3 linked regions of the Homo sapiens genome follow. The protein of the gene in region 3 interacts with the protein of the main gene of each other region in a biochemical or structural test. Each region holds a gene or a part of one and is shown on either strand. Other genes may lie near its edges.

The links. The genes of interacting proteins can lie anywhere in the genome.
Region 1: the proteins of ESR2 (region 3) and TRAM1 form a complex in vitro, tested with the Homo sapiens proteins (one study listed by BioGRID).
Region 2: the proteins of ESR2 (region 3) and NCOA6 form a complex in vitro, tested with the Homo sapiens proteins (one study listed by BioGRID).

The regions. Positions count from the first base shown.
Region 1 is NC_000008.11:70,591,417-70,594,916, forward strand, and holds part of TRAM1 (translocating chain-associated membrane protein 1), read right to left. Parts: intron 3,175-3,500; coding exon 3,090-3,174; intron 1-3,089. UniProt on the Homo sapiens protein: Involved in the translocation of nascent protein chains into or through the endoplasmic reticulum (ER) membrane by facilitating the proper chain positioning at the SEC61 channel.
Region 2 is NC_000020.11:34,738,652-34,742,151, reverse strand, and holds part of NCOA6 (nuclear receptor coactivator 6), read left to right. Parts: coding exon 1-1,789; intron 1,790-3,219; coding exon of another isoform or gene 3,220-3,293; intron 3,294-3,500. UniProt on the Homo sapiens protein: Nuclear receptor coactivator that directly binds nuclear receptors and stimulates the transcriptional activities in a hormone-dependent fashion. Coactivates expression in an agonist- and AF2-dependent manner.
Region 3 is NC_000014.9:64,256,372-64,259,871, forward strand, and holds part of ESR2 (estrogen receptor beta), read right to left. Parts: intron 1,045-3,500; exon of another isoform or gene 994-1,044; coding exon 855-993; intron 1-854.

The DNA of each region.
Region 1 (3,500 bases), on a different chromosome or scaffold from region 3:
ACAAAGCCTTGCCTAGCACCAGCACAATGGTCTCTGGACGTACACATTTACATGGGTTGTGGGGGAAGGGAGAGAACAGAGAAGGCTGGGTGAAATCATAACAAATTATAAAATCGTAAATAACTTCAAGTGCCATTTTCAGTTGTTATTCCAACATCTGTTTATTAAAAAATATAACATACTTCAAAAAATTTATTTTTATAAAAAACACATTTCTTGACTACTCTATACTGAAAAATAAACAAAGCTGAATATCAAATATATGCCCCAAATATAAGGCAAAGATCTCCCCCCAAACCCCAGATGGTACATCTTATAATTAAATCTTTACAAAGCTCTGCATTATAGAGCTCTGTATTAATTATCTTGACAAATAAATGTTTGCGTAAGACACATACACCCGAAAACTTCAATCAATGTCATTTTTAAAGGTTTATAAGGTCTAATGAAGGAACCAGTGAGACAGAAGATGACGTCATGATGTGGAAAAAATGTCATCAGATTAAAAAAAAGTGGTTCTAGTGATGATGAATGACAGATACTAACATCAAAGTTGCATATGAAAAGTGTAATGAAACTTTCATGAAGTAGGAAGGGGGAAAATACTATTTCTAATACTTTATATGATATGCAATTATAGGTATGTATAATTATATGTATGTATAATTAAACTAAAATTGAATATTAGAAATAAAACATTTGGCTATTTCATGACTTCCCTAAAAGCTCATATATTCAAGCTGTCTACGAAATATTTTGAATCTTCTCATGGGCAAAATGGAGAACTGTTTATATACACAGTATATGTAATTTAAGTTTTATCTTTGAAAGAAACTAAGTTATTTGTGACTAACACACCTCTTGAACTGCTACTAACAGCGTTCCTTTCTTTCCTATTTGTCTGTATGATTGGTTCAAAACAATCACTGTACTAGTTTCTTCCAGTAAAGAGTTCCAAAAATAATTTTCATAGAGTAAATTTTAAGAAACTGTTTAACACATATGCAGCTGCTACTTTCAAATTATGTTAATTACTTGAAACAGTTACTTTCAACTGTCATATGCAGGTGTTAAAAATAGTTTCAGTTAAGTTCTGAGTTATGCAAATTATTCCATAAAAATTAGACTGCATTTCTGGAGAAGTGCCATCTGGCAGGAACTGATAAGAAAAGAGCTTCAGGAACTAAAATGAACAATTACTTTGAAATGTCCCTTCTTACTTACCATAGTCAATGAAGAAGATATAGACATGGATTAATAATGAAATCCAGAGGTATTTGTTCATGAGTATACAAATACCTTAAGAAGGCTTTAAATATCTGAGCCATGCTACTAAGACATCAAGAAACTATGATACTCTCAGTAGCGCTGTCCAATAGAACTTTCTGCAATCATGGAAATGTTCCATATCTCCTCTGTTCAAAATGGTACATACTAGCCACAGTAGCTAATAAGCACTTGAAATGTGGCTACTGGGGCTAAAAAAGTCAATTTCGTTTTTGTTTTTTAAGTTCATGTAGATGTGACTAGTAGTTAGCATTTTGGACAGTACAGCTCCACAATATCTATGATTCACATTAGGAGCTTACTAAACATGGAAGGGCTACTGGAATCTGGGCCTAACAATTTTATCTGAAGACAGTTCTAAATCAAGGGTTTAAAAATAAAAGGTCTTCATCCTATTCCTTATCAATATAGCTGGAGAAACAATCTACTTTATAAAAGAAATCAGCATAAAAAGAACTTAAGTACCATAGCATATGGCCTTTAATTTGGTGCTGTTTTCTAATCCTAGCAGACAACATGAGTAACGACAGATACACAGAACACAGACACGAAACAGTAGGAAATCAAGTGCCTAGTCCATGAATTAACTATTTGTAGCACACATAAAAATAGTGTTTTATGGCTTTTGAGTAGGCAAAGATAAACTAGTCACCAGACTGGCTGTCACACTTTCACTCCAGGTTTCTCAAAGGGGATTAAAAAAAAAAAAAAGAAATTTTAAATGCGGAAAAATGTAAACATATACACAACAGACAGAAAAGATTCTGACATACCCGTAACTCAATCATTATTAATAAACGATCAAACTTGTTTCATCTATATCCCTCTTCACTTTCCTTCACCTGGTATTATTTTGAAGTAAAATCCCACATAGGATTTCATATATGAGAATTAAAAAAAAAAAAAAAACTCCCAGAAAAAAGGGAAATGAAAGTACTTGATTAATTTATCCGAGGGAAGAGGTGTTCCAGGAAAAAGAAGTGATGTGCTGGGATTACAAAACTAGAGACTATCAGTGTGCATGAAGCATAAGGAGTAAGCAGAGAAAGAGGTCCCCGAGAAAAGATGGTGGCGATGGGAGAAACTCTCAGGGCACAGTTGAGCAGCATTACTCTAGTTTAAAGTAATAGGGAGCCAATACAGGTTTCAGAAGGGAGAGGGTAAAGAAAACGACTTTTGTGATAGCATGGAACCCGACTTCAGAAGCACTGAGGGTAAAACTAGGAAGGAGGATTTTGCAGTGCTCCAGCAGTTTACTTATTTGTTCAAATAAAACAAACAAATATCCTTTCCACATGCTAAAAAGGGAATGCTCTACCCATTTCAAGAGAGGCTTTGCTGGTGAATATTTAAATATATTTTACTTTTTTTTCCAATACTGAATTTTGCTTTAGGACTTACACACAGAACTGTTAGTTGTAATGTGACTAATCCTTTTTGGCTCACTTGTGAAATAATTTGCTAAGAATATCAGTAAGATAAAACAAATATTACATTTAAAAATTAGTTTAAATTTTAATTTACATTACCACTAACATAATTTTAAGACAAGCCATTAACATATCAAATGTAAAAAATCTAAGCTAAAATACTGACTGAAGGTTTTTTTTTTTTTTTTTTCAAGAAATGCTTAAGGATTTTAGGCTTTGTGGAAAGAGGGTTGGTGGGAGAATGATGGGGTAAGAGTTGAGGTAAGAAGAATGGAGGAAGGGCAAACATGTAAGAAAATACTTAATTTTAGAAAAATTTTTCAAAAAAAAAAATGACAAGACATTTTTTAACACTACAAAATCCCAGCTTACTTTTTTGGTTTTCTGGAAGTAGAGTTCAGGAAAAGCATGAAGCCAGTAAGCCAGCTGTGATATGTAGAAAAACTTCATTTGAAATCTGTACAACACAAGAAAATGAAGAGTACCTTTTAAAGCATAATTTTTTTAAAAAAAAGTAAACAAATACTGGAAATCAGGATATACTAAGTAACTACCTTTGTGTCATCATTCCATACAATATCTGTGCACCTTTAAACAACTCTTCAACAACCTCTTTCCCCATCTCCCTGTGACAGTCCCACCATTGGACAAGACCCCTGGATTAAACAGCAGGCAAAGATACTATCTGCAGAAAGCTATTGACATGTAAGCCAGTTGGGAGGAGTCAGAGCCCCTATTAGTTCATTAATACTGACTAGTATGTCATGTTAGCTACTGAAAACA
Region 2 (3,500 bases), on a different chromosome or scaffold from region 3:
GAGTTGCCGAGAAATGTATTGGTCAGTCCCACTCCTCTGGCCAATCCCCCTGTACCTGGGAGCTTTCCTAACAACAGTGGGCTGAATCCTCAGAATTCTACTGTGTCTGTGGCTGCAGTTGGGGGTGTTGTTGAGGATAACAAGGAGAGCTTGAATGTGCCTCAGGACAGTGATTGCCAGAATTCCCAGAGTAGGAAGGAACAGGTAAACATTGAACTAAAAGCAGTCCCTGCCCAAGAAGTTAAAATGGTTGTCCCTGAAGATCAGTCCAAAAAGGATGGGCAGCCTTCGGATCCTAACAAACTTCCCAGTGTCGAAGAGAACAAAAATTTGGTGTCTCCTGCTATGAGGGAAGCACCAACATCGTTAAGTCAACTTCTTGACAACTCTGGAGCTCCCAATGTGACAATTAAACCCCCTGGGCTTACAGATCTGGAAGTAACACCTCCAGTAGTTTCTGGGGAGGACCTCAAAAAAGCATCTGTCATTCCCACACTGCAGGATCTGTCTTCTTCTAAAGAACCTTCTAATTCCCTAAACTTACCTCACAGTAATGAGCTGTGTTCATCCCTTGTGCATCCCGAATTGAGTGAGGTCAGTTCTAACGTTGCACCAAGCATCCCTCCAGTAATGTCAAGACCTGTTAGCTCTTCCTCCATTTCCACTCCCTTGCCCCCAAATCAAATAACTGTATTTGTCACTTCCAATCCCATCACAACTTCAGCTAACACATCAGCAGCTTTGCCAACTCACTTGCAGTCTGCATTGATGTCAACAGTTGTCACAATGCCCAATGCGGGTAGCAAGGTTATGGTTTCTGAGGGACAGTCAGCTGCTCAGTCTAATGCCCGGCCTCAGTTCATTACACCTGTCTTTATCAATTCATCCTCAATAATTCAGGTTATGAAAGGATCACAGCCAAGCACAATTCCTGCAGCCCCACTGACAACCAACTCTGGCCTGATGCCTCCCTCTGTTGCAGTTGTTGGCCCTTTACACATACCTCAGAACATAAAATTTTCTTCTGCTCCTGTACCGCCTAATGCCCTCTCCAGTAGTCCTGCTCCAAACATCCAGACAGGTCGACCTTTGGTCCTTAGCTCACGAGCCACCCCTGTTCAGCTTCCTTCCCCTCCTTGTACGTCTTCTCCAGTTGTCCCTTCTCATCCCCCTGTGCAGCAAGTGAAAGAATTGAATCCAGATGAGGCTAGCCCTCAGGTGAACACCTCAGCAGATCAGAACACTCTTCCCTCTTCACAGTCAACCACAATGGTTTCTCCCCTTTTGACCAATAGTCCAGGGTCCTCTGGCAACCGGCGAAGCCCAGTCTCGTCTAGTAAGGGCAAAGGAAAAGTGGACAAAATTGGCCAAATTTTGTTGACCAAGGCATGTAAGAAAGTTACAGGCTCTCTTGAGAAAGGGGAAGAACAATATGGTGCAGATGGAGAGACTGAAGGCCAAGGGCTAGACACCACAGCTCCGGGGCTCATGGGAACAGAGCAGTTATCCACAGAGCTGGACAGTAAAACCCCAACGCCCCCAGCACCCACTCTGCTAAAAATGACCTCTAGCCCTGTGGGCCCGGGCACTGCCTCAGCAGGACCCAGCTTACCTGGCGGTGCTCTCCCCACCAGTGTACGCTCGATAGTAACCACTCTGGTACCCTCCGAGCTCATCTCCGCCGTACCGACCACAAAAAGCAATCATGGTGGCATAGCATCTGAGTCACTTGCGGGTGGCCTAGTGGAGGAGAAGGTGGGATCCCATCCAGAACTTCTACCCAGCATAGGTATGTACTTGGGGCTTCATCATCTCTTTGTGTCAGTTTTTTGATGACCTAATCCCACAAGAGAAAGCATGACTCCTTTTTTACTTGGAGGAAAGAGAATGGGCTAAATGGCAATAGCAGTAGTTTTATTTATTGAAAGTACGTTGGAAAATATGCTTTTAAATCCCATGTTAAGTTTGCATTCATTAAAGAGAGCTAAGGGCCAGGTGCGGTGGCTCACGCCTGTAATCCCAGCACTTTGGGAGGCCGAGGTGAGTGGATCAGTTGAGGTCAGGAATTCGAGACCAGCCTGGCCAACATGGTGAAACTGCATCTGTACTAAAAATTCAAAAATTAGCCAGGCATGATGGCACACACCTGTAATCCCAGCTACTCAGGAGGCTGAGGCATGAGAATAGCTTGAACCTGGGAGCAGAGGTTGCAGTGAGCTGAGATCATGCCACTGCACTCCAGCCTGGGCAACAGAGCGAGACTCTGTCTGAAAAAAACAAAACAGAGAGCTAAGGCTCTCAAAACAAAGAGTTCCTGAAATAATGATACCTTTCATTTATATAAGTTTTTCAATTTATAAGGAAGCATTTTTACATATGTTGTCTTGCATCATCTTTATACCAACTATGTCAGATATTCTTAACCCCATTGTATGGGTGAGAAGATTGAAGCTCAAAGACGTTCAGTGTTTGTTCAGAGTCTATACTGTGAACCTCCCATTTAACACTGTGCCTTAAGTGTGAACAGCAGCTTCTGCAGATTCTCTTTACCAGGGTGAAGATTTGCTCATGACTATTTCAGAACAATGGGTCCTCATAGCCCCATTCTCACTGTACTCTATCTCAGGAACCATTCTTTTTTTGTCTGGGCTACTCTAGAGGAGAGCTGGAAGAAAACTGGGTTTCATGATAATGGACACAGTAGAAACAAAGTGGTCAAGAGCCAGTAGGCTTGGGTTGGTATTATAACACCAGCATTTACCAGCTATATGGGCTTGGGCAAGTTACTTGACCACTCCAGACTTTGGTTTCCTCCTTTGTAATATGGAACAATAATAGTTGTAAGAATTCAATAAGGTAGTACATATAACATTCTTAGCACAGAACCTAGCATATAATTATTATTCAATAAATGGTAAAAATTGTTATTCCCAGTTTCTTTTTGATGTAATCTCTTTGTTGATTGGTACATTCCATTTGTGTATCTAGTTCAGGCTATTTCCTATGTACTGTTAAGATGGGCTAATGATGGAAGCATAGGTGTCCTTACAACCGCCCCTCCTTCCCTTCTTCCCTTCCCTGACATGTTCCTCCTCCTGTGAGGCTTAAGTGAAGAAGCTCTATTTCCCCAGAGTGGAGTCAGTCACACACTGCTAGAGCTGGGAAAGACCTTTACGATATCCTAGGCCAGCTAATTAAGTGCCTATCTTATTTATGCAGCTAAAATGCTTCGAGTGCCTACCACTGAGTGGTAAGCACCCAGGAGGAGAGGCAGAAAGAACACAAACTTCAGGGTAAGATCAGAGTTCAAATTCTAGCCCACTGGTTACCAGTTACAGTTGATACGTTCCTTAACCTCTCCTAAGCCATGTATTTCACTTGTAAAATGGAGATCGTACATTCTACCTCCCAGAATTTAGGATTCTGAGAGAGGACTCAATGAGAAGATTTGTCAAGTGGCCAACACACTGCCTCACGCAGAGCTCTGGAAAGGTTAATTC
Region 3 (3,500 bases):
AGTTTTAGTAACCCTTCCTTCCACCGCTATTGCCAAAAATGCTATATAGTACATGCATTAGAATGTGTTAAAGCAGATCGGGCATGGTGGCTCACGCCTGTAATCCCAGCGCTTTGGGAAGCTGAGGTGGGCAGATCGCCTGAGGTCAGGAGTTCAAGACCAGCCTGGCCAACATGGTGAAACCACTTCTCTACTAAAAATAGAAAAATTAGCCTGGCATGGTGGTGGACACCTGTGATCCCAACTACTTGAGAGGCTGAGGCAGCAGGATCACTTGAATCCGGTAGGCGGAGGTTGCAGTGAGCCAAGATTGCACCTCTGCACTCCAGCCTGAGCAACAGAGAGAGACTCCATCTCAGAAAAAAAACAAAAAACAAAACAAAACAAAACAAAAAAAAACAAAAGAGTGAGTTAAAGCATGTGAAAATAAACTTGGCACATTTCTAAGAATTTTATCACCTGTCCAGAAAGCTCCAGATATAATTGGTCACTATAGGTACAAAAAACAGCAGGACAACTTAAGATTATAACCTGAAAATGGAATTTTTAATGGAGAAAAATCTGTGTCGACTTATACACATAGTGGCCACATACCTACGGGATACAGTCCCCTATTAAAGCGCTGGCCTGTAAATGCTGCTGCACCACAGATTAAAAATGAGTCACAGGACCCTGAATCCTTGGACCCAACTCTCTCCTTCTCTGGTTCTTGACCCAGTGAAGGAGCTGATGATGCTATCATCCTCTGCCCTGCAAGTGTGAGATTTTAATTGCAGCACCCAGGACTTTGTTCCCACTCACTAAGCACCTTACTCAAACAAGTCAGAGAAGAAACACAATGTATTTTTTCTCACCTGTCCAGAACAAGATCTGGAGCAAAGATGAGCTTGCCGGGGTGGTCAATTGAGCGCCACATCAGCCCCATCATTAACACCTCCATCCAACAGCTCTCCAAGAGCCGCACTTGGTCGAACAGGCTGAGCTCCACAAAGCCTGGGGAAAGCAAGAGGCGGTGAGACACCCCCACCCCTCCTCCTCAGCTCCCTGTGTGTGTAGAGACAGAATGGCAAGTGTTAAAACACTAAGAAAACACAAACCATTAGGGAGTTGATATTTTATAGATGTGATTAACTGCTCATTAAAGGAAGAAAACTTTGAAGTTAAGCTGCGCAACTTAGTTTCCAGTCTTGGACCCCTTCTAGAGACAAATATACTTCATTTAGAGTTTGTCAAGCACTACGACCTCGGCTCAGAACTGATCTTTGTTAGCTGTGTCCTGATAATTCCTCTGCACTACTGAGAATGTTGATGCTTGGCTGCCAGTCAGAAGACCTGCCTGTCTGACCCAATCCTTGACTGGGATCAGAAGGGGTGGGGGATGGGGTAGGTGGGGGATGGGGTAGGTGGAGGTTGGGGTTGGAGGCTTGCAGAGAGCAGTGCCAGCCCTCACAGAAAACCAAGGCCTCAACTGCAAGGATTTCTCTGATTGATTAAAATTTCCTATCCAGTGTTAAGATCCTTCTTCTGGGTAGAAGCACTGTTTCTGGGTGATTCTATCCTAAACAGCAAATATAGCCAAGCACACCTGTAATCCCAGCACTTTGGGAGGTCAAGGTGGGTGGATTGCCTGCACCCAGGAGTTTGAGACCAGCCTGGCCAACATGGAGAAACCCCATCTCTACAGAAAATTATCTGGTCATGGTGGCAGGTGCCTGTAGTCCCAGATACTCTGGAGGCTGAAGTGGGATGATCGCCTGAGCCCAGGAGGTCGAGGCTGTAGTGAGCTGAGATCACGCCACTGCACTCCAGCCTGGGCAACAGAGCGAGACCCTGTCTCAAAAATAAATAAATAAATAAATAAATAAAGAGCAAATATAATAACGAAGCAGGTCCTGACAACCTAATAACCCATGTTGGTCACAGTACTGTTTGCAAACAGGTAATCTCTGGGGAGGGAAGCACTTCAAAAGCAAAGCAGAGAACACCGGGGCTTCCTTCACAAGCCATGATAAAAAGAGAGGGCCATGTAATATAAATATGATAACAAAAGACACCGCCTTGGAGTGAAATGGACTCTGGTTCGAACCCCAGCTCAGCCTCTTTCTAGCTGTTCACTTAATCTCCCATTAAGTCTTTGTTTTTCTTATAGGAAAATGGGGGTAACAATGCCTATCTCTGAGAATGTCTTATAGGCAGGATCTCTTATCATTCTTGTTTTACAGATGAGGAAACTACAGCAGAGAGAACACACATGGTTCAAGTCTTTGAACAATTATAACGCAAATCTGCCTCAAGGAGAATGTAATGGTGTTATGAATGTAAAGATGGATAAATACTTTCTAAATCCACATGCTTTGCTCAGTTTAGGTTCCTAATGTGTATATACCTTCCCAGTCTCACCCATAGTGATTGACAATAAGCCTACCCAAGAGAGATCACGGTTCTTAATCTTGTAGATATTCAACAAGATCAAGGCTAGATGATATTTTAATATATATTTTTTGGTTTGGACAATGACTATGCCAGCTAAGAGAGGAGAAAAAAAATCACGCCTTCAGATTATGTCTACGTTTCCTGAAAACTTTTCAAAACACCAGGCTTGAATAAGGAATAATGCAGTTTAAGAGTTCAGATTTCTTATGGCACAAAGAAGGTGCACAGCTTTCAGCAATAATTAATTTCACCACTGCTCTCCATGTGTGGTCCTGCAAAATCGTGTTTGGAATACATTTAAAGCAAAAACTAGAGGAAAGTGCATCAGTATTGCCTCCCCTGGGAAAAAGCAGAGAAAATAAAATAATTCTGGCAAAGGTGAAGATGCTAGACAAAACAAAATACAACTAGAAACCAAAAATCCTCAGGAAGCTCAGAAGAAATGGGCCCAGGCCAACAAAAGTCCCCAAATGATACTGTCACCATAGGCCTCAGTTCCCCAGGCTCTTTACCCAAAACTTCTCTTCCCCCAGCTTCTCACCCCTCCTCATCTTTACAGCTTGCCCAGTGCAGTCGCTGCCCTCCAGGCCATGGGAATGCCCCCAGTGGCTCAGAACTTATAAGAGACTTCATTTCTTCAAGGACTGTAAAGAACAGCATGGAGAAGCTGTCACAGGGGGATCGTGGGGTGTTGCCACTCTAGGTTAGAATCCTAGATTCACTCCTCCACAGAAACACCAAGTCAAATGATAATTAGCTGGTAATTTTAGCATCATACAGCACTTCAGATATATATTACAAATGGGCTTGAGAGAAGTGATCACTTTGGAGGATGGAAAACGCAGGTTCCAAGTGACAACTCATGAGTAACTAAGCTCATTTTTAACTTGATGGCATTCCAGGTTTATGGGCCCATTGATGATTCGTGTAACTTCAACCACTGATTTACTCTGTTTGTCCATACATATTCATTTATGTACATAATATTGATTCTCTACTGGAACAATAATTTACAAAATTCTATTTAGCATCTGACAAACCTTTCACTTTCAAACTAGTCATACTGT